Linked DNA regions of Homo sapiens: all the other regions are linked to region 1. Evidence: fine-mapped expression QTL. A gene starts in region 1. Each other region holds a variant in brackets. All regions are shown on one strand. Distances are between the middles of the regions. Region 1 holds the start of ADAMTS7 (ADAM metallopeptidase with thrombospondin type 1 motif 7). Region 2 holds the start of LOC112268143 (a long non-coding RNA gene). Region 3 overlaps ADAMTS7 (ADAM metallopeptidase with thrombospondin type 1 motif 7). Region 4 overlaps ADAMTS7 (ADAM metallopeptidase with thrombospondin type 1 motif 7).

Evidence for each region. PIP is the estimated chance that this variant, and not a neighbour inherited with it, causes the effect.
Region 2: its variant is the best candidate, but not a certain one, in a credible set for the expression of ADAMTS7 in monocytes after Pam3CSK4 (Quach 2016, PIP 0.77).
Region 3: its variant is the best candidate, but not a certain one, in a credible set for the expression of ADAMTS7 in lung (TOPMed, PIP 0.82).
Region 4: its variant is the best candidate, but not a certain one, in a credible set for the expression of ADAMTS7 in lymphoblastoid cells (GEUVADIS, PIP 0.88).

The regions. Positions count from the first base shown.
Region 1 is chr15:78,809,259-78,814,397 of GRCh38, forward strand. ADAMTS7 (ADAM metallopeptidase with thrombospondin type 1 motif 7) reads right to left here and starts at 2,206. Exons shown (of 24, transcript NM_014272.5): 1 at 1,863-2,206. The coding sequence starts at 1,962. RefSeq lists a silencer at 2,234-2,653.
Region 2 is chr15:78,754,097-78,759,235 of GRCh38, forward strand. It overlaps LOC112268143 (a long non-coding RNA gene), which reads right to left and starts at 3,649. Exons shown (of 2, transcript XR_002957697.1): 1 at 3,552-3,649; 2 at 1,868-2,386. ADAMTS7 (ADAM metallopeptidase with thrombospondin type 1 motif 7) reads right to left here. Exons shown (of 24, transcript NM_014272.5): 24 at 5,110-5,139. RefSeq lists enhancers at 2,226-3,030, 2,706-2,915, 3,031-3,835. The variant C/T (reference allele first, on the strand shown) is at 2,975.
Region 3 is chr15:78,775,773-78,780,911 of GRCh38, forward strand. It overlaps ADAMTS7 (ADAM metallopeptidase with thrombospondin type 1 motif 7), which reads right to left. Exons shown (of 24, transcript NM_014272.5): 9 at 1,672-1,816; 10 at 977-1,069; 11 at 416-561. Among named protein-coding and RNA genes, the nearest start is that of ADAMTS7, 33 kb to the right of the region's middle. The variant C/T (reference allele first, on the strand shown) is at 2,234.
Region 4 is chr15:78,760,091-78,765,229 of GRCh38, forward strand. It overlaps ADAMTS7 (ADAM metallopeptidase with thrombospondin type 1 motif 7), which reads right to left. Exons shown (of 24, transcript NM_014272.5): 20 at 4,465-4,617; 21 at 3,836-4,009; 22 at 3,609-3,755; 23 at 2,313-2,475. Among named protein-coding and RNA genes, the nearest start is that of ADAMTS7, 49 kb to the right of the region's middle. The variant C/G (reference allele first, on the strand shown) is at 2,468.

The sequences.
Region 1 (5,139 bases):
TCTTAAAGAAGGTAACATTCAGTGGTAGGAGGAGCCCCAGGCTTAGGTCCTGGGCTTCAAAGAAAATGACAAACAGGCCAGCAGCCTCAGAGTCACCAATCCTGAGGGAGTGCAGAACAGGAAGGACCCCATGCTCTATATCTATGGGAACACTAGAGACAGACTTCACCCTTGGAGTGTTTGTGCCCAGATTAGGTTGGAGAGAGTGCCTGGCCTGCCTCCACCCTCAAACAGCAGGTCCAGGTCATCTGGGGAGTCCTGGGTCGGCCTGGCAGATTAATAAAAATAATGACCACTACATTGTAGTCACTGTGTCCTGCCTGAGCAACTGACATATTCAATATCTCATTTAATCCTCATAAGAATCCCACGAGGTTGACCGCACCCAACTCTTCCCACAGCTGCCAGGGGGCCAGGACCCAAGTCCTGAGGGAAGCATTTTCCTGCTCTCCCATTCCCATCGCCCGGTTCATCCTCCTCAGCCCCCAGCTCTGGACAGTGGAAAACACAAGCCTCATTCAGGAAGCTCAGGAGTCCAACCCCACAGGTCGCTCTACTCTGAGCCTGTTTGCTGGTCCATAAAAGGACTTTCCATCACTTGCTTTGCACGGTTGTTGTGGAGATGATGAGAAATAAGAACCCGTGAGGCTGGCACACAGTAGGTGCTCATTAAATGTTCGCTCCCTCTGCGCTCTGCGCATGGCTGCTAGACCAAATCTTTCCAAAACACTGCTTTCATCAGCTGCTCCCCTCAACGGCTTCCCAAACCTCTAAGATCAAGAGTCAATGTCCCCATCCTTCCCGCCCAGACTACTTTCTCGTCACAATCCCTCCAGTGGGGAGGCAGGTCGACCCCATCCCAGCAAGCAACCCTAATCCAGTCCCCCGACTGATGCTCCCCAGGGGAGGGCCCCACTCCCTCCACGCCCTTCTAGCTCATCCAGAATCCATCCATCCTTCCAGTCTCTCCAACCTCATGCCCCTCCTCTCCTACAAAGCCTGCCGGTCGGCTCTATTGCAGGACTCTCCCCACTATCCACCGGCTCCCCTGACTGGGAGCTCCCTGAGCACCGGGCCTGGGGTCTCCTACATCCTCGGTTACTGAATTCCCAGGCCGGCTGCGTCGGACGCGCCAGCAGCGCGGCCGCCCGGCAGGTCGCCGCCAAACAAGAGTCTGGACGCAGGCCAGAGGCTCGTCGGAGGCCGGCCCGGCGGGGCGGGGAGAGTTAACCCATGGCCGGGAAAAGAAGCTCCTGCTCCCCGCTCCACTCCCGGCGTCTTCACACTTGGGGAAGGGAGAGGCAGGAAGTGCAAGGACCGCGCAAGACCCGGCCCCCCGAGCCGCCAGGGGCCGCGCCAGCAGCCCAGATGCGGTGGGCGGGAGCTGGGGGGGCGGCGGGGTCCCGCGAAGACCTGCGACCTGGCGCCCTCGCCGGCTGTGTCCCGGCCAGCCCGCTTTCCAGGCGAGCCTCGCTAAGGAGTGTGAGAAACCAAATCCTCAGTGGGTAAACCGCGCTCCGTCCAGCCCACTCGGACGAGAGCTCTCCCGGGAGCCAGGCGCGTTGCTGCACCCGAGGTGGGGAAACCGGAGCCCGAAGAGCGGAAGGGGCTTATTCCAGGCGACAGGCAGTGTCAGTAACTGAATCAGGGGCCGAGGAAGTTTCCCCAGAAGCGCGGCTTCGCTCCCGGCCCGGCCCGACCCCGACTACTGTCCCCTAATACCCAGGGAGCGGAAGACGCGACCAACTCCAGGCACAGCGGAGCCGGCGCGGGGTCCACAAAGGTGAGGAGGGACAAAACCGAGACTGGGGGAGCGGGAAGGGGTGGCAGGCCCGGCTGGCCGGGGAGGGGCGGACACCCACCTGGTGCGGGTCCGGGGGCGCCGGGAGCCAGAGCGCAGAGGAGCAGGAGGAGGGGGCGCAGCAAAGGCGCGGGGCTGCGGGGACTGGGGCCGCCGGGCATGGCAGGAACCGGGCGGCCGCCGGGTGACCCCGCGCGCACGCTCTCGTCCGTCCCGTCCGGTCGCTGCCTGGTCCCAGGTCCGGCTCAGGACATGCCCGGCCGGCGTGCAGCTCCCGGCGACCCGGCCCCGACTCCGTTCGGCTGCGCTCGGTCCGCGGGCAACAAAGGCTGCAGGGCCCGCCCCCTTGGCCGCTGCAGAGGCAAAGAAAAGACAAGAGAGCTAGAAGGAGAGAAAGAAAGAAAGAAAGAAAGGGAGGGAGAGTGAGGGAGGGCGGCTGCCGGCCCCCGCCCCGCCCCTCGGACTCCTTCCCCCGCCCCTGGCCCCGCCCCGCCCCGGCCGGCCCCGGCCTCATCGGCCCCGCAGGCCGTGCTCGCCTCAAGGGCTGGCCGGCCCGGCGCAGGCAGCGCCCCGCAACGGATGTCCGCCCCCCTCGCCCCCCTGTCCCGAGCGCCCCCTGCCGGCGGAGCCCTGCCAGGCCTTTCCGACCCCGGCCGGTTGAGGACCCCCGGAAAGAATCTGGAATTTCCAGAATTAATGTGTTGTCCCTAAATTGGGCTCCACGAGGTGCCCTTCGCTGTGTTCCCCAGGCCAAGCAGGGCAGCCCCTCAAAAGGGGACGCGGGAGGCCTCCAGAGGGCCACACCGGGGGCCCTGCTTCAAAGCTATCTGCGGAGACAGGCCTGGGCCCTCCCTGGACAGACAGCGGTTGCCCGCGCGAGGTGGGGCCCCGCAGTTCCTCGTCTCCTGACTCCTCTCCTAGTGCGTTTGCTTGAAGCAGAGCGCAGAGTTGAGCCCACAGGCGGGGGACCGCGGCTTCGCCCAGGCCAGCGCCCACAGACTTTCAGCAGGGGCTCCCGGGGAGCCTGGAGGCCGGCCAACCCCAGCCTCACATCCCAGGCCAGCCTCCGCCTCCAACACCGGCCGTCTGTCCTTCGTGGCCCCAGCCCTGGCTCTGGCTTCCGGCTCCCCTTCCCCCTGTGCTCCCAGGAGCTTCCTTTCTCCCTTCTGCCGTCACTAAACATGGCCCTGTACCGAGGACGCCCGTCTTGTCCTCGGGGCGGTTGCGGTCAGCTTCCTCCCCTTGGTTAGTCTTTGTGTGCCCCCTGCCCTCTGAGGCCCGCACACCTCCTCATTGTCCAATCTCCTGGGCCCTTTCATTCAATTCCTGGAAGCTCACTTCTGGCTTCCTCTCCACCCTCAACCTGTCTGTCCTCTAGGGAATTTGTGTAGTACAGGGTCACCTACTTCCTCCATCTCATCTCCAGTGACCTTCCACTCCACCTCAGCCATCAGGTCTCAGGGCCAAAGCCTGGGCTGTGTCATCCCTCAGAACTGCTCCATCTTGGAAATCCGAAGCTCAGGTGCCCCCCTGTCAGACCCGACTCTGCAGTCCTTTCCACCTTCACAGTCCCACTATGTATTGCTCTTCCTCCAGTCCCTTGATACCTTCCTCTTCGCCCAACCTACCAGCCCCTCCTGGCTTCACCTACTTCCCTCCCAGCTACATCTACTGCTTGACTCCTGGCCCCTACCCAACCACCTTGCATTTCTTCCCCACTGCTTACACCAGCTGGTCTTGCTGCTCAGTGACATGGACAATTCAGACCACCACATCCTACCATGCACACTGCATACAATGAGCCTTTGTAGCTGGCACCCACTCACTTCTCCCTCCATCTGGACACAGTGAAACAGGTGCCCTCCAGCAGTCAGAGACAATGCTTCCACCAGGGCTCTGTGGCTCCCTCCCCTCCTGTCTCCTCAAAGGTCCTGCTCCAGGTGTCCCCCGCTTTCCTTGGTCTCCTTGGGTTGGTGACCGTCAGTCTAAAAACATTCTTGTCTTCCTCCTATTAAAGATACTGATAATAGCTGGGTATAGTGGCACAGGCCTGTAGTCCCAGTGATACTCAGGAGGCTGAGGAGGGAGGATTACTTGAACCCAGAAGTTCCAGGCCAGTCTGGGAGACATACTGAGACACTGTCTCTAGGGAAAAACAAACAAACAAACAAAAAGCAGGCAAGGTGCCTCACACCTATAATCTCAACACTTTGGGAGGCTGAGGTGGGAGGGTCACTTGAGCCCCGAGTTTGGGACCAGCCTGGGCAACATAGTGAAACACCGTCTCTACAAAAAAATTAAAAATTAGCCCAGCATGGTGGCATATGCCTGTGATCCCAGCTATTTGGGGGGCTGAGGTGGGAGGATCACTTGAGTCCAGGAGATTGAGGCTGGGCCAGGCCTGGCCCCACCAATGAGCAGTAGCCAAGATCACGCCACTGCATTCCGGCCTGTGCAACAAAGTGAGGCCCTGTCTCAAAAAAAACAAAAAAAGTACTGATAATACCCCTCCATGGACTGGGTGTCCCCTCTAATTCCCACCCCACATATCTGCTCCCTGTCTTAGTCAAACTTCTCCCTCAAGGTTGTCTAGATTCCCCCTTTTCCCATTTGTACCTCAGGCTAAGCCTCTTGTCCCCCCATCTTGGTGTCAAAGCCAAATTCCTTCTCCACCTTGACCTGCACAGTGCATTCTAGAGATACCCTCCCTGTTCACATACCTCCACTCTGCCCTCATCACCTGGCACATCTCTTCTTCACTCCATAAGATCAAGTATGCACTGCAGACCCAGGGCACTGGGGACACAGCTGTGAACAGGTGGATAAGGTCTCTGTTCCCTGGAGCTCCCACTCTGGAGGAGGCCATGGACAGCAAGCAAATAGACAGATGGATAAACAATTCAGACCACCATATAAACAAGACCAGCTACAGAGAGGTGCTTTGAAGAAAATAAAACCGGAAGTGACTAGAGTCTACTTTCCATGGGGTGGTCAGGGAAGGCCTTCCTAAAAAGGTGACATTTAAGCTGTGATACCAGAATGACAAAAAGGAGCCAGTCATGTGAAGGTGAAAGGGAGAAGATGTGAGCCAGGCATGGGATGCATGCCTGTTGTCCTACCTGCTCAGGAGAATGTGGAGGGAGGATCCTTTGAACCCAGGAGATCGAGGCTGCAGTGAGCTCTGATTGCACCACTGCACTCCAGCCTAGGCGAGAGAATGAGAGACCCTGTCTCTAGAAATAAAAATAAATCTTAAAAAGCTGGACACTGGTCAGGCGCAGTGGCTCACACCTGTAATCCCAGCACTTTGGGAGGCCGAGGATGGCGGATCACTTGAG
Region 2 (5,139 bases), 55 kb before region 1:
TTGACTCGTGGAAATCATTCACCAAGTACGATGGGATGGGATTCCAAGTAAACAGTGGACCGTCATATTGCAAAGCAGGCCCACGCCTGGGCTGGCCTTGGTTGAGGGGATGGAGGAATGTTTTCGGGGGTGCTTTGCAGGGCAGTGGTGCAGCCGCAGTGTGAACGGTCTTGGACAGCTGAAAACCATGGCCTCCTTGGGGATGGCCAGTGCTCCTGGTGTCTCCTCCACCTGCCTGGGTTGTGCAGGAGGCCAGCTGCCAGTGCCTGGGGCTGGGAAACTTTTTTGCTTGGGGCAGGCTTGGGCGAGCTCTCCCAGATGTGTGCCCACCCCACCACTGCCTGGAAGCATCCTTGTTCTCTGCCAGGATGCAGGGTCACTGTTGCCTCTGACACAGCAGTTTCTGGGAACTCAGAGGACTGCCTTTCTGAAGGCTGGGGAGAGGCTTTGAGCAAGGAGCTTGTTTTTGCTTAATCCCTCTAGACCATCCCTGATGCGTAGATGTGAGAGGATGTTTTCTGGCACAGTGTTATGAAAATACAGGAGAAACAGTCTCAGTGGAATGTTTCATATTACCCGAAAAAAACTGGAAACCATCCTCTGTTGATACGAACACACTGAGACTAAGAATTGAAGTAATGCAGTTTTAAGAAGTACTTTTTTCCTATTATTTTTTGCTGTCAACTTTCTAGCAATGCCACGGCAAAGTTGGTGTTTCAGCACATGCTAGAGTGAGCTCCGGCTTCGTGTCTTTAGCGGAGTTGGTTAATGTTTCACTGGGTAGACGGAGCTGGCCTCTATATTTAGCCAGAAGCCTTTGCCTCTTTTCAGGCATCAAAAATGGGTGTTGTCATTGTCTTTGAGAACAGCAATTTGAGGTCTGACTCCTTCAGTTGTCCTGTGAGCTGGGCGTTGCAGTCCGCTCGAATCAAGTGTTGGAAACCCCCCACCCCACCCCTCAGCCCATCGTGAAACGACAGCTGTCAGCCTGGGGGGTGGCTGCTGAGGAGGTGCAGCAGGAATGGGGCTGGGCCCGTGGGCCAGCACCAGCTGCCCTTAGGTTTTACTTTCCAAGCCAATGGCCCCTGGAACATGCCAGCACACACTGCCATGTCCTGGGGCTAAGAGCTGCCTTTAGGGACAGGCTCGTGTTGTCCAGTTTGCCCTGAGAGATGCACCTGACCAGGGGCCCGTCGTGGCTGCAACCCACGGTGGTATGTTAGTGTTTCCAGGCAGTTGTCAGCAGCTGCCGGGTAGTGTGTGTGTGCGACAGCAGGAGAGTTCCTGGAGGAAAGGGACTGGGGACACTTTCTCAGAGGTTCTCCTGCCTGGAATCAAGTGATGCGTGTCCAGAAGGCAAGAGAGGGCGGCTCCGCCTGGTTAAAGTTTGGGAACGGGACGGAGCCAACTCCTCCTTCCAGGACTGTGGGCCCCACTCTTTTGCGCTAACACTTCCCCTCCCTCGGGTCACTGAGGAAAGAGCTGCTCTGTCCCCTCCAGTGCCCTGAAGGTCCCTGGCCTCCACTGGCTGCCATGGCAGGGGGCCCTTCTGACAGGGGCTGCCCCAAGCTGCTGTTCCTCCTCTGAACCTTCACCCCAACACCCAGCCCGTGGCCCCTGCAAGGGGGACCCTGCCAGCTGGGAAACCCAAAGGCCTGTCCAAATGCGCGCACCAGGACCGAGGGGAGCTCCCTCCCCACATCTGCTGCGAATTGCCAGCTTTTAAATGGATGGGGTTTTTTATGGGTTGAACCTCTGTTAATACTTTTGTACACTCTCACTACAGTTTATATTTTTATAGGCTATTTTCTCAAGGTGTTTCTAGATTCCACATATCTATTTTATATAACAAGTTCTTATGTTATGTGTGTGACTCCCTTGTGTGTATCTGTGCCAGCCTCAGCCTCCGAGTTGCTTTTCCCTCTGGCCCTGACTCTCACTGACTCACCGATGTGATGTGCAGGCCCACTTCTTACCCCAGATAGCCTCGGGTGCTGCCTGTAGTCATGCTGACAGCTGTACAGTAGCCGCCAAGACTGCTGACGGCTGGAGACGGTTCTGGTTTCAACAACTACGGTATATTGATATCGGAAGTATTCTAGACAGATCCTCAGTTGGGTTTTCTAGCTACATGTTTGTATTGCACAGATCCCCACCTGCCATCCTATAGTGTTGTCTTCCTGTGTGTTCCGGGGCTTCTGGGCAGCTGGGCCTGCCCGGGGAAGTCCTTGCAGGTGGGAGGCCATACAGAGACCCAGTGTGTGCCACTGAGCGTCCCACCGCTGCTGGGCAACTGGAGGACTGCAGGGGGCGCCAGGTGACTCTCTCCTTTTATATCACAGCAGCTCCTGTGCTGACCTTCAAGTTATGTTTTGGAACTGTAATACTAAAGGAAGAAATAAACTACTAATTTGTATAATATTCTGCATTGAAATTCAGTTATAGTCACTAGTGATGGGGCTCACCCCAAGGGCTTGGAGGGTGGGGCAGGGCTTATTGGTGTTGCGGGGGGCGAGGAGGGGCTCTCCAACCTTCCAGCCTGGCGTTTCTGGGTGTCTCTGCCCTTGGCTCACCCTGGGGCGGGTGCATCAGGATGCCTTTGCCAGCAGGGGCAGCCTTGGGAGGCCCCAAGAACCATGGCCAAGCTGCAGGTGTGGGCTGGGGGCACCGAGGTGGGAAAGCCGGAAGCTGGAGACTCCCTGTGTCCGGATAACCCCCCGCCCAGCCACAAAGAACAGGCATGCCTCCTTCCGCCAGCTGTGCCATGCCCTGCCTGAGTCACAGGCTTGTTTGTCTCCCGTCTTGGCTGACAGCTCAGGCCCAGCTGCCACTGGGGACACCCCCAGTCATCAGTGGAAAACACCCAAGAATGATGAAGACCAAAGGGGTTCCCATAGGGGTGTTTCGGGGTGGCTCCATCAAGGATTCCCAGACAGGGCAGGCCAAGGCCTGGCAGGCTTTTCTCTTCTGGGGA[C/T]GTGGATTCAGCGAGGCTGGGGGTTCCTGGAGTCACGCAGCAGAGCGGCGGCGGCAGAGCTGGGACAGGGACTGGTTCGGTGTGTGGGTCAGGAGCAAGTCGACAGGCCCTGCTCCCCACCCCTTGGAAGGGAGTGCCACCAGGGGCCGTTCTGACTAAGGCCTGGGAAGCCGTGACTCAGAGCGTGGGTCCCCAGGGTCTCTTTGGGCCAGCCGGGCTGCTGCAGACAGACAGGAAGCACGCCTGACGCTCCTCCACCCTCGGGCAGCACAGCGGGGCTGGGACTCACGCTAGCTTGCCCAGCAACTTGCTTTCCTGCGTGAACTCTGGCAGGCTGCCCTCTCTGTGCAAAGCCACCACTGGGACCTGCTTGGGGCCCTCTCCCTCTTCCACCTGCTCAGGGTAGCCTGGAGCTTGGAGGTGGGCAGTCGGAGCCTAGGATGGGCCTGTGTCACCAGGGCATGTGCCCTTGGGCCAGGTACTTCCTCTCAGAGCCTTGAGTTCCTCCTCTGAGGATCGGGCTTGTTGGTGTGAAATGAGGTGAGCATGTTGAATTGGGGAGCAGCAGGACACGCACCTGCAGGCAGCTGCCGTGGCCATGCTCCCTCCCTCCCTTCCAAGTCCTGGGACAGACGCTCATCGCCGAGGGGTTCAGCCTCTGATACTGTTTCTTGGTCTCAGCCCCTAAGGAGTAATTTTATTTTATTTTTTTTGTGTGAGATGGAGTCTCGCTCTGTCGCCCAGGCTGGTGTGTAAAGGTGCGAACTCAGTTCACTGCAACCTCCGCCTCCCAGGTTCAAGCGATTCTCCTTCCTCAGCCTCCCAAGTAGCTGGGATTACAGGTCCCCATCACCGCACCTGGCTAATTTTTGTATTTTTAGCAGAAATGGGGTTTTGCCACATTGGCCAGGCTGGTTTCAAACTCCTGACCTCAGGTGATCCGCCCGCCTCAGCCTCCCAAAGTGCTGGGATTACAGGTGTGAGCCACCGCGCCCAGCCAGGAGTGATTTTCAGTGGTGTCCCCTCCATCCCCAGCATATACCCAGCCCTGAGTGGCTGCGGCTGCCACATGCAGGCTCCAGGGCTACATTCACCTTTCGTCCAGGGTTGTCATACGCTGGAGAGTAGAATGTGAGAGGTGACCCCTGTAGGCTGCAGGGCGAGCTCTCTGAACCTTAGTGTCCCCCACCTGGAGAAGGGGCGTAACACCTTCCAGGGGGAGGGCTGAGGAAGAAATTGTCAACGGCTGAGTCTAAGGCTCACAGCCAGAGGCCAGGGTTGGATCCAGGGCTGGGCCTGGGCCTGGGGGGACAGTGTCCGCCCCTTCCCCAGCCTCCCGCCCCTGGTCAGGCCAGGACCCTCTTCAAAGCACCTTCATGCCCATCTGTTCCCTGCTGTGGGCACTACTGTCTGGCTCCATGGGACTAGATTTTATGGGAGGGGAAGGGGCTGTGGGTAGGCAGGTGCCAGGTGCTGGACCATAGATCAGCGTGGTAGGAACCTGTAGCTGGGGCTGGTGGTGGGAAAGGGGCCAACCTGAGGCAGTGACAATTAGCCCAGCCCTATCTCTGGGCACAGAGATGAAGGGACACGTGGGGACACAGTAGGGCACAGCTGGCCAGCCTGCTCTTCCCCTCTCTGCCTGCTTTTTGCAGAAGAGTCAACAGATAGAACAGACAGGGCCAGGGAGGTCCCCATGGGGGCCCCAGTCCCCACCACTCCAGGGGGCAGTCCCTGCAAGTGACATGGTGGGCTCAATCCCTGTGGAACAGGTCTCTGAGGACCACAGAGTGGGGCCCCAGGGAAGGCTGGGAGCCTGAGCTGAAGGCAGGCAGCAAGTAAGGGCCAAGCCGTGCCCCTGCCCGGAAGACCTTCCTGCCCCCAGAACCCCACCCTCTGCAGACAGCCCTCCCTGGGGAGCAGCCCCCCAGCTTCTGAGGCCTTCCGTGCCTCACCAGATGCCATGCTCTCAGGGACTCATTTTCTACGCTGCCCCCTGCAGATCTGTCCCAGAGGAGCAGGTGAAAAGCCACGCCTGCCGAGGTGCTGTGGCGGTGGAGTTTTGGGCAGAGGGGTGGGGGGAAGAGTTTCTCACTTTTAAGATTCTCCAAATCCAAGACGAAGTCACGCTGTGCTTTGGAATGGTAGATGCTCATTTATGTAAA
Region 3 (5,139 bases), 33 kb before region 1:
ACAACTTTACTGGATGGGCACTGCTATTATACAGATGGGGAAATGGAGGCCCAGAGAAGGGGTGAAGAGGAGATTCGAACCCTGAGCCATCTAAGGTCCAGGGCCCATGCTCTTCCCCACTGCCCTCTCCTGCCTCCTTCCAGCCAGCAGCTGCTTTGCCATGTGGCCTCTGATGAGTCTCTCTAGTCTCTGGGCCTCAGTGTCCCCCTCTCTGGAAAGGGGTCAGAAGTGGGGACCCTGTCAGCCCCCAGAACACTCCTTGAAAGTGACTTAAGGTGGCCTGGACACTCGGACTGACCATTATCAGGACACTTCTAAGAGCCAGGGGCTGGGACAGAGCCAAGCTCCTGCAATCGGCTGACTGTTTGGGTCCCTCTGTCCCACTGCCCAAGGGCACCCTGGGCCCCACACTCACGTAGGCTGCGTGCACTGCCGCTCGGCGCTCTGTACGCCCATGCCACAGCTCCGTGAGCAGATGGACCAGGCGCTCCAGCCAGACCAGCCACCATCCACGGCCTCGGGCCGGAAGCCCACGGGTACGCACTCCCCACTGAGACACCACTACTGAGACAGACGGAGGTAGAGCCACCCCACCCCCAAGTCTATCAGTCATCCTCACCCTAGTGAGAACAAGGTGGGTGGGAAGGCTGCGAAAGGCACAGAGGGGAAGGATGGAAGGTGAGAGAGGCACCCTCACAATCATCACAATCATCTGTGACCCAGGCCACATGGAGGAGCTGAGCGGGGAGTAAAACAGCCCACATGCTGACTCAGCTGAAGACACCCTGGGGAATCATGGAATCAAGCCCTGGCCCCAATGCCTCCACTTTGCAGATGGGGGCTTGGGCTGCAGAGAGCGTGGGGCTCTGCTAGGAGCACAAGCAAGACTGTGAGCCGGGGCTGACCCCAGGGCCTGGTCACAGCAGGAAGTCTGGCCTCTCACACACCCACTGCCGGGACTGGGGACATCCCCTACCTTATTCTCCCCACACCGGGTGCCGTCCACAGCTGCATCCAGCTTGGAGTGACAGGTGGTCCCCACAGAGCACCAGAGTGTGTGGCAGACATTCTGCGAGGAGGAGGGCATGGGCCATACCCTCACACCCTCCCCAGTGCCGCCACCCACCCTGCCCCCCTCCCTGTCCCCAAGGGTCCCCTGGGCACCCCTCCACATGGCAGGGGCCCACAGACCCCCAGAGGTTCCTTCTTGTGTGCCTGCTCCCACCTTCCTCCCCGGACCATGTGGTGGTGTGGGGCGCCCGGGGCTGCGCTGCTCAGAGCGGTCCCCAGCTGTCCACACCTCTCCCGGCCCAGCCCCTCCTCTGGAAACACTCCTGTTAGAAGATCACTTCAGGCGATCTTCGCCAGGATAAACAGACCCTCTCCACAGGGGTTCCTTTTCCCTCTTATAAGCCAGCTCCAGAGAGGCGAAGGGACTTGTCCGAAGGGTCACAGTTGGTCCATGGTTGACCCAGAATTCAGAGCTGGGTCTGTGGCCGCCCATCCCTGGCCTCTCCCACAGGCCACTTGACGTCTCACAGTGTCACTCAGGGGCGCAGCCCAGGCCAGGAGAGGTTGCTCCCAGGCTGGCATCCACGGGCTGGTGAGAGCTGCCCCCTGAGCCCTCCTGCCGGGTCCCCACACCCCCACACCCACACCGGCCCCACTCACATCCATGTCCTCGCAGAAGGCAGAGTAGGCCCCGTACTGGAGGCGGCACTGGTGGCTTACATCATAGAGGACGCCAGGTGGCACCGAGGGGAAGTCGATAATGTCCTTGGCAGGAGGGTCGTCCAGGCACAGGCCCCACCCACGGCTAAAGATGGGACGGGAGGATGGAGGGGGGCGCAGCCTGTGAGACCCATCGGAGAAGCCTTGGTGGGGCCGGGACAGGAGGAGAGGTGGGAGGGGGCACAGAGCCCTACAACTGTAGGAAACTCCAGCCTCCCCGCTCGGCTCAGCCGATCCTCCACCTGCAGCCAGCAGCACAGGCCCTCCCGGCCTCTCTCATCTCACCTCCTGGGCACTCCAGCTGGCTAAACAATCCCAACCCCAATCCCAGGCCTCCGCACACGCTGCCAGGGCCCTTCCCTCAGAAGGCCTCCTGGACCACCAAGCCGTCATGTGGCCCTGCTCTCCGACCCTGCAGCCTCCGTGTCTGAGCCCAGACCCTGGAGCCAGGCCCGACAAGGATCCGGAGAACATCACATCACAGTTGACACAACAGAGCCTC[C/T]GACGGCCCCACCCAGGCAGAGACCTTGGGTCATCTGTGGAAAGGCGAGGTCTGGAAAGCAGCCCCTCCCCTGGGAGAGAGCCCAGGGCAACCATGCCTGTCCCGTTTCCCCCACACCCCGACAGGGCTGGCCTCCGGCCTCTGTCATACCCTATCTACTCCTGCCTTCCTCCAGCTGGCATTCCCTGGCAGCGGTAGCGGGGAAACTGGCAGACACAAGCAGGCGCCATCTGTGTCCACCACACACTCCTGCTGCTGTGGTGTGGTGAAGACAAGGCTGCTCAGACACAACACCATGAGGCAGGAAGCATGGAAGCAGGGACCCTGGGGAGGGCGGCCCAGTCCCTTCTGGCACCCGCTTCTGCCCCTGCCTCACTCTGTACAACCCTCAGGCATGCTATTGCTTCTGGGACCAGTGACCAGCCTGCTGCCCCTGCTGGACCTTAGGTGGCCACCACTATGGCTTAGCAGCAGGAGTGCCCTGGCATGCTGACCACCCTGCCCATGGCTCATTGCTGTCCTGGAGGAACTGGAGGAAGGTTTGCTGCCTTCTGGGGGCAGCAGTGGCTGGGGAGAATTGAGCCACACAGACTTGCAGGGCTGGGGACGACCCAGGCAGCCACGACTTGGGCAGAAACAATGGAGGGAGGCAGGACCCGCGGGACCTGGGGCCTCTAGCCAGGCAGAGGAGATGGGGAGGCACAAACCCTCCAGTTCTCCAGTCTGGGTGGCCTCAGGGCAGGTGGCGCCAGGACAGAGGGTCAGGATGAGCATACAGTCCTGATTGGGACAGGCAGGGGGTTGCACAGGGAAGAAGGGCAAAGGTGATAGATCCTGGAGTCCAGCAGGGAGAGAAAGAGACACTCCGAGATGTGGAGAGGCTGGGAGAACACGAAAGGGTCAGGAAACAGGGCCAAGACCACTGAAGGCAGGTGTGGAGAGAGGCTGGGAGGGTGGATCAGACCATGGACTCCCGAAGCCCTGATTTCAGAGGAGGGGGCCTGGCAGCTTGGAGATCCAGAGTGGAGTGGGTGTTTGCGTGGTCTCCTAAATCCCCCGACCAGTGACAGGCCCCCGGCCCTGCCCAGAGCTGCGGAGAAGAAAGCCAAGGTGACCAGACTTCTACTGAGAACCCTGGAATCCTCCTGGAATCACTCAGACTGCCCATGCTGGCTGGAAACAGATCCTCTAACATGGGCGTTGGCAGATGAGCAGCTGCTGGATGCAGTCCTAGTGCCCAAGATGATCACATGCCAGGCTGGTCCAGGGTGCTGGGGGCATACCCTCTCATTTGCTCCTCACAACATCCTGGGCAGACTCTACCATCATCTCCCCTCATGCACTCAGGGCCCATAGGTCACTGGCCCCGGGTCGCACAAGAGAGATGTGATGGCCAGGATCTGGAGCCAGGCCCAGGCTGCCTGCACCAGGCTGTGTCTACTCACTGGGCTACCCCCAGTGCAGGGCTCCTCCCATTCAACTGCGAGCCTGGCCTCAAATACTTCACCCCACATACAAGTTCAAAACCATGGCAGCGAGACCTGGTGGGGAGAAAGGAGTGTCCCAAGTGCTCCTGCGGCTTGGGGCTCCCTGAGCCTCCCTGGGCCTGCACCCGGGGCAGAGTATCAGCGGCGGGTGGTGGGGTCAGCTGGCCCTGGGCTCCCTCCTTCCCGCTAGCATTCTGTGGCTCGAGGAGGTAGACTGGGGGCTCACCCATCCCAGCCAGGGGGTCCTCTGACCCTGGGGCTGAGGGGTCCAATGCACCTCATCCCAGCACCAACAGTCCCTGGGCTGCAGCCCAGCCCTTCTGCTTCCTGGCTGCCCCAGTGCTGACTCGCTGCACATGTGGCTCCTGCGGGCCTGCTGTTGGGCAGCTGAAGCCACAACAACCTCTCAGCCCACCCTGGGTGTGTGGGAGAAGTCGGGAGCATGAGGCGACCCTCACAGAATCCACTGTGAGAATCAGGCCGAGGTGCTGTCTTGGGAGTCAGAAACCCAAGTTCTACTCTTTGCCTGGCTATAGATGCTGTGTGGCCTTGGGCCTTCACGTCCTCATCTACAAGAGGCTGATCCCAAGCTACAGGGGTATAAATAGCAGTGTCTTCTTGGGAAAAATCACACAGGCGGCCGGCAGCCAGCCCTTCCTTCCTCTGGCAGGCTCACTGCCAGGTCCTCTGCGCTGCCGACACACCCGGATCCCCAAACCCGTCAGCCCTTCCCCTCCACGCCCCTCCTTAAGCTAATTATAGCGGGGCTGGGCAGTCCCACAAGAGGTCAAAGGAGACAGTAGGTGACTCCAGTCAGAAGCCTCACTCTCACCTTGAGACTGCAAAGAGCTGCCTGCCACTGACAGGAGAGACCTGGGGGCCCGCTCCCCTGGCCACCCCTGGCCACCCCAGGGATCTGGTCATGGAGTCACTGAATGGGGGGTCCACGGGGTGAAGTGAAGGACCCCACATGTGACCCAGCCTGCCTCTCTCCCTGTAGAAATGCTGGCTTTGAGGAAAGCAGGGACCAGGGCCTCCCCTCCTCCCCACCCAGGTCCAAGTTGACACTGGTGAAATGCTGTGACCTCTCCCCAGGGTCCCTTAAAGCACCTGTCAGTCCGGAAAGGTTCTTAGAGTTCTTCAGGTCAACCCTCTTGGACAAGCTCCAGAAGCTACCCTCCAGTGCCCCCCCACCACCTCCTGAGGGTTCTTCTGCCCCACCCTATACTCGCATGGCCCCGGCCTCTGCCCAGCCTGCCCTCCACTTACAGCAGCACCCTTCTTCCTCGGCGTGGAAGCTGGCCTTTAGAAGGCAGGCTCCTTCTCCGAGTCACTGTTCCTGACCCCAGGAGGGCTTGGTGGCCCTCTCCCCATTCCTACAGACCCACGAGGACTGCATGCCTCAGTGCCAATCATCCC
Region 4 (5,139 bases), 49 kb before region 1:
ACAGGGTCCCATCTCCCAGGCCAGCCTCCCACTTCTCAGGTGGGCCACGAAGCCTAGAGTGAGTGGGCCTTACAGGCCGTCAGCGGAAACCAGAGACTGAGCCCAGCCTGCTGGGGAGGGAGGCCAGCTGCAGGCTGTGCTTGTCAGGGCTGAGGCTTGGCTGGGCCCTCCTGCCCCGTGGTTATCAGAGCTATTTTGGGAAGTGGCTTGTTTCCAGCCTCCTGGCCTTGCTCCTGATGCCACTGCCACTGCTGACAGCCCCCAGCTGCCACCCGGGCCCTGCTTACTCCAGCAGACCTCCCTGGGGAGGAGGAGCAGGAAGGCAGCAGCCAGCCCTGGGCCTGGGACATCCCCCAGGCCCGGCAGAGGGCACGAGGCAGCAGGCAGGCTCCTCCACCCCAGCTCCAGGCAGAGCTCCAAAGTGCACATCTGCAGGCCTGCATCCTGGTCGCCCGGGGTGACCTCAGACAAGCTGCTTCACCTCTTGGGCCTCGGTTCCCTCCTCTGTCAACCCCACCTCCACAGCAAATGGATGTGGCCATGCTGTGTCACTGCAGTGAGCACACACACACGAGTTTCCCAGCTTTCCACATGTCCCGCCAACTGTCCCACAGACCAGCAGAACATCTGGGAATTCCAGGTCTCCAAGTCCAAGACACCTTCCCAGCCCCCCTCCACTGTTCACTGATGGCAGAAAACTCCTCACTTAGGACAGCTTCTAGTTCAGCCACCTAACCAGCCCCCATAGCCCACTCCCTGCAGCCCACTCACACCCGCCCCTGGGAGACCTTGCAAGCCCAGAGCCTCCTGGGCCATCCGTCCTTGGTTCTAGGCCCCCAGGGGCCTCAGTTTCTGTTCTCTGCCCCATCTGGTCCTCCCCCACTGGGATCATAACCACCCCGCTCCCTGTGGCCAGCCCTAGCCATAAAGGTGAGAGACGTGGTGCCAGCACCCAGCTCAGGTAGCACATAGGAGTGCTCTGAGATGCTGGCTGGGTGCGTGCTGAGGGCAGGCAGGACAGGGTGGGGGCGCTGCCACTGGGCCTTGAGGTTTGAGGCAGGAAGACCACCCATGCCAGAGGCAGGGCAGCGAGGCATGGCAGGGGCCACTCTGAGCCTGAATGAGGGCTGCCCAGGAGCTGGCACAGGTAGAGAAGGCAGCGTTGGACAAGGGGAGAAGGCAGACCGGGGAGATTGCAGGGGGCCCTGAATGCCAGCTTGAGGGCCCTGGCTGAGGACTCTGTCCTAGGGGCAGGGAGCAGACAGCCAATAGCACAGGGGACACAGCTCTTCACGCCACGGCTTCTGGATTCCTTAGACTGGCAGGGTCAGCCCCAGGCCCTCTCCCTGACCTTGCAATTGGGGATGACAGTGGCTGTGGGGGAGGGGAAAAAGCCACCTTCCCTGAGCACCACCTGGATCCCCACGCAGTGCTGCGTGCTTCATGCCCAGACCTCATTTATGCAAGGATGGGGCTTGGCAGCCCCTTTATTCAGCACATGAAGGCCCTGAGAGGGAAATGGAGCCCAAGGCCACACAGCTGGTGAGGGGAGCCTAGGTGACACTCCAGGGCCACCCCATTTCCTGCCCTCAGCACTTCCGGGAGCAGCTGGGGCTGCAGGAAGGAAGTGTATGACTGTGTGTGTGTGTGTTGGCGTGTGTGTGTGTGTGCGCGCACGCACACATGCTGGAGGCGGCGGCAGGGGTGTCCAGAACCACCTCTACCTCAGGCCCTTCCACCAGGACCCAGCTGGCCAGGAAACCCCCCACCACTGGGATTAACAGGACCCTGGAAGGGAGGCCCTTCCTGCCTCAAACCCCATTACCTCATTAGCAGGACCCTGGAAAGGAGGCCCTTCCTGTGGTTCCATTGCTCACTCTAGGCAGTCCTCTAGCCAGGGAATGGACAGGCCAGGGCTGGGGACAGGGACTCACCCAGGCCCAGTTTTCACACAGCCTCAGGGACATCCCTGGTCTCACTGTGGGAAGACTGAGACCTAGAGGAGAAAGAGCTTACCCAGGTTCACACAGCAAATCAGGGGCCAGGGCCACTCCCTCTACTCCCCCAAGGTCAGACAGCTGCCTATGGGATGTTGTGTGGCCGGGACTCCCCTTGACTGACTCCCAGCACAGCCCAGCCTCCAGCATGGCATCCTGTGGCATCAGGATTTTCAGTGGCCATGTGGCTCCTGAGCCCAGACTACAGATGGAACCAGCCAGTGCCGTGGGCACAATGGTTTGACGACCCCATTTCCCCATCACCCTCCCCACCCCACCTCACTTCAGCAGGGAGCCTGGGGTCAGGGGACTCACGGGGAGGCTCGACGGGCTCACAATCCTCGGTGCCACACGGCCGGGAGCTCTCAGGCCAGGCCTCGTGGCCACACTGGTCACTGTCTTCCTCGGGCAGCCCTGTCTGGGTGTTGACACACTTGACCAGGCGCCGCTGGACACCACCACCACAGGGG[C/G]CTGAGCACTGAGGGGAGCGGGGGAGGAATGAGTGTCTCCAGGGCCAGCCCTAGCAGTGGGGGCAGGGACACCTCCTCTGGGAAGCCGTCCCTGCGCCCTGTGCCTGACTGGCCTGGCCTTGCTCCCAGCCGCCCCCTCAGTGCCTCCTGGAGCACCTGGTCCCATTCCTAGAGCCCACTTGGTGCTGGAACCCCACTCTCACTTGTGGGATCGGCTCCTGCAGAGGGAAGGGGCGTGAGAACCGTGGGACAGCCCTCGGGGCGGCAGGGCAGTGAGCCCCTCACACAGGACATGCCTGAGAAGCCTGGGCAGGGGCGCCGGGATGGAGCCCTGATGCAGCAGTGGGCAGAGATGTGGGCGAGACACCGCTGTGCCCGAGGGACAGGGCAGAGGACCTGCCGCAGCCCATGGGCAGGAGGGCAGGAGACAGTTTCACAGCCGGGGCCCAGCCCGCCAGGCTTCGTTGTTATCAGCCCTAAACATGCACTGAGTCTGTGCCAGTGTCATGCTGTGCCCGGCCCTGTGCTTCGTTGCGTTCCTTCATTTAATCCTCCTGACCCTCCTCTCCTAAGCTGTTCCAGTTTTACAGATGAGAAAACAGTGACCCAGCAACGCAAAGCAACCTGCCCAGAGTCACTCAGCAGCCAGTCGGACAAAGACGCAAACGCTGGCCCAGCTGACTCCAGGACCCAGCTCAGGGCCCAAATCTGAGATTTCTGAACCCCTCAGTTCCAAACAGGCCCAGCAGAAGGTGTCCTGCCCATCTGAGGCCCCTCTTACGCCCCCTTCTGCCGCTGGCCTTTGCCGGGCTCCCCGGCCCCCTCAAGCTCGTCATTCCTGCCTCAGACTTCACACCTGATGTCCCTTCGATCCCTGTCCTTGGCATCACTGACTCCTCCCTCGGGTCTCAACCCCAGACCCCTCCTTGGAAGGCCTTCCCTGACACCACAGCACACGCGCCCTTTCCTTGTCTGTTTCTCCCTGGCAGGTGTGAGCACCAGCCGGGCGGGGCCTCGTCCAGTGACAGGGCCACAAAGAGCCTGGCTCACAGCACACACTCCACAGCTCCTTCACCCAACCCAAGACTGACCAGGCGCCACCAAGCACTTGCTCCCTGCTCCTCCCCGCAGCCCGGCTCACCTGGCCCCAGGGCCCCACCACCCACTGCGTGCAGGGGTGGGTGTTGCAGGGCCGGGTGGTGTTGGGTCTCAGCGCCTCCTCGCAGAGGCCTGGCTCCGGGCAGGTCACTAGACGCTGCTGCTCACCACCGCCACAGGCCTCGGAGCACTGGGTGGGCAGGGAAGGAGTCAGGGCACAGCCAGGGTCTGAGGGCGTCCCCTCCCCCCAACTCAACGGCCAGGCCTCACCTCCCTCCAGGAAGATGTGTACCAGCTGAGGCAGGGCTGGGCCCCGCAGGGCCGGTGCGCAGGCGGCTTGGCAGGCCCGGGCTGACAATGGAAGGGCCGCAGTGGCCGGAGGTCCCGTGTGTCCACACACTGCACGTCCCGCACTGAGGAACCTCCGCCGCAGCTGCGGGAGCACTGGGGACCGAGAGACGTGTATGGACACATCCCCATGTGCAGGCCCACAGGCGTGACCCCGTGAGGTGTGTGGCGGGAAAGGCATCCAGGCCCACGCCCCAGCCCGGGGGAATAGCTGAAGAACCCCAGCGAGAGGCCAAGGCTGGCAGGCCCCAGGCAAAAGGTGGCATGGCCAGGGGCTGCCACGGGCTGGGACAGACAGAGAAAGGGAGGAACAAAGGCAAGCTGGTGAAAGACAAGTCCAGATGGGGTCAAAGATACAGAGGAAAGGAGACAGGCCAAGCCAGACAAAGATGAGAAGACTCCCAAGAGATTCAGAATCCGGTGTGATCGGGCACACAGATGTGCAGCCTGGGGCCCTCCCCTTCCCTGCCGCTCTCAGAACACAGGCCGTGGGGAACCAGGGCTCCACCCCATGCCCTGGGAATGCCTGTCCTGGCTCCATCCTCACGCACCTTACTCCAGTTGCCTGAGTGCCAGGTGGCACAGGGCCGCAGGTGGCAGCGGCGGGCAGGCTGGGGCCGGCCAGCGGGGGCGCAGTCCTCATCCCGGCCGGAGCTACAGCGCACCGGCCTCCAGACCGCACCCAGGCCACAGGTGGTAGAGCACTGCGGGGCAGAGACCCGTGAAAGCCAGGCAGATCCCATCCCCGCCAGGCCTCCACAGCCAGGAAACTACCCACCTAGGCTAGCGAGACCTCAGCAAGACAGGGGCCCTCTTCTGGGCCTCAGTTTCCTTATTTGCAAAATAGGCTCCTTCACCCACCTCCCAGGAAGACCGTGAGAATGAAAAGTCAAATCCCCTCAGCAACCAGCCGTCCCTGCTCACATGGGACAAAGGGCCTGTGTTCCAGTGTCATTGGTGCAGAGGTGGGGGGAGGGGACCCTGTGGGCACCCCGACCAGCTATCTTGACCAGCCTCGTCGCTTCCCAGAGGCACCAGGGAAGGAAGGCTGGGTCCTGGTACCAGCAGCCAAATCGCTGGGTATCCCTGCGCAAAACAAGCCCTGTGGGCCTCAGCCTGCCCCTTCCCGCCCCAAAATTAGGGATCTGAACAGAAGCTTCCTTCTCCTGCAGTGACCATCTGGGGACCCAGGGAGGGGCACTAGCCAGCTTCTTTCTGGCAGCTCA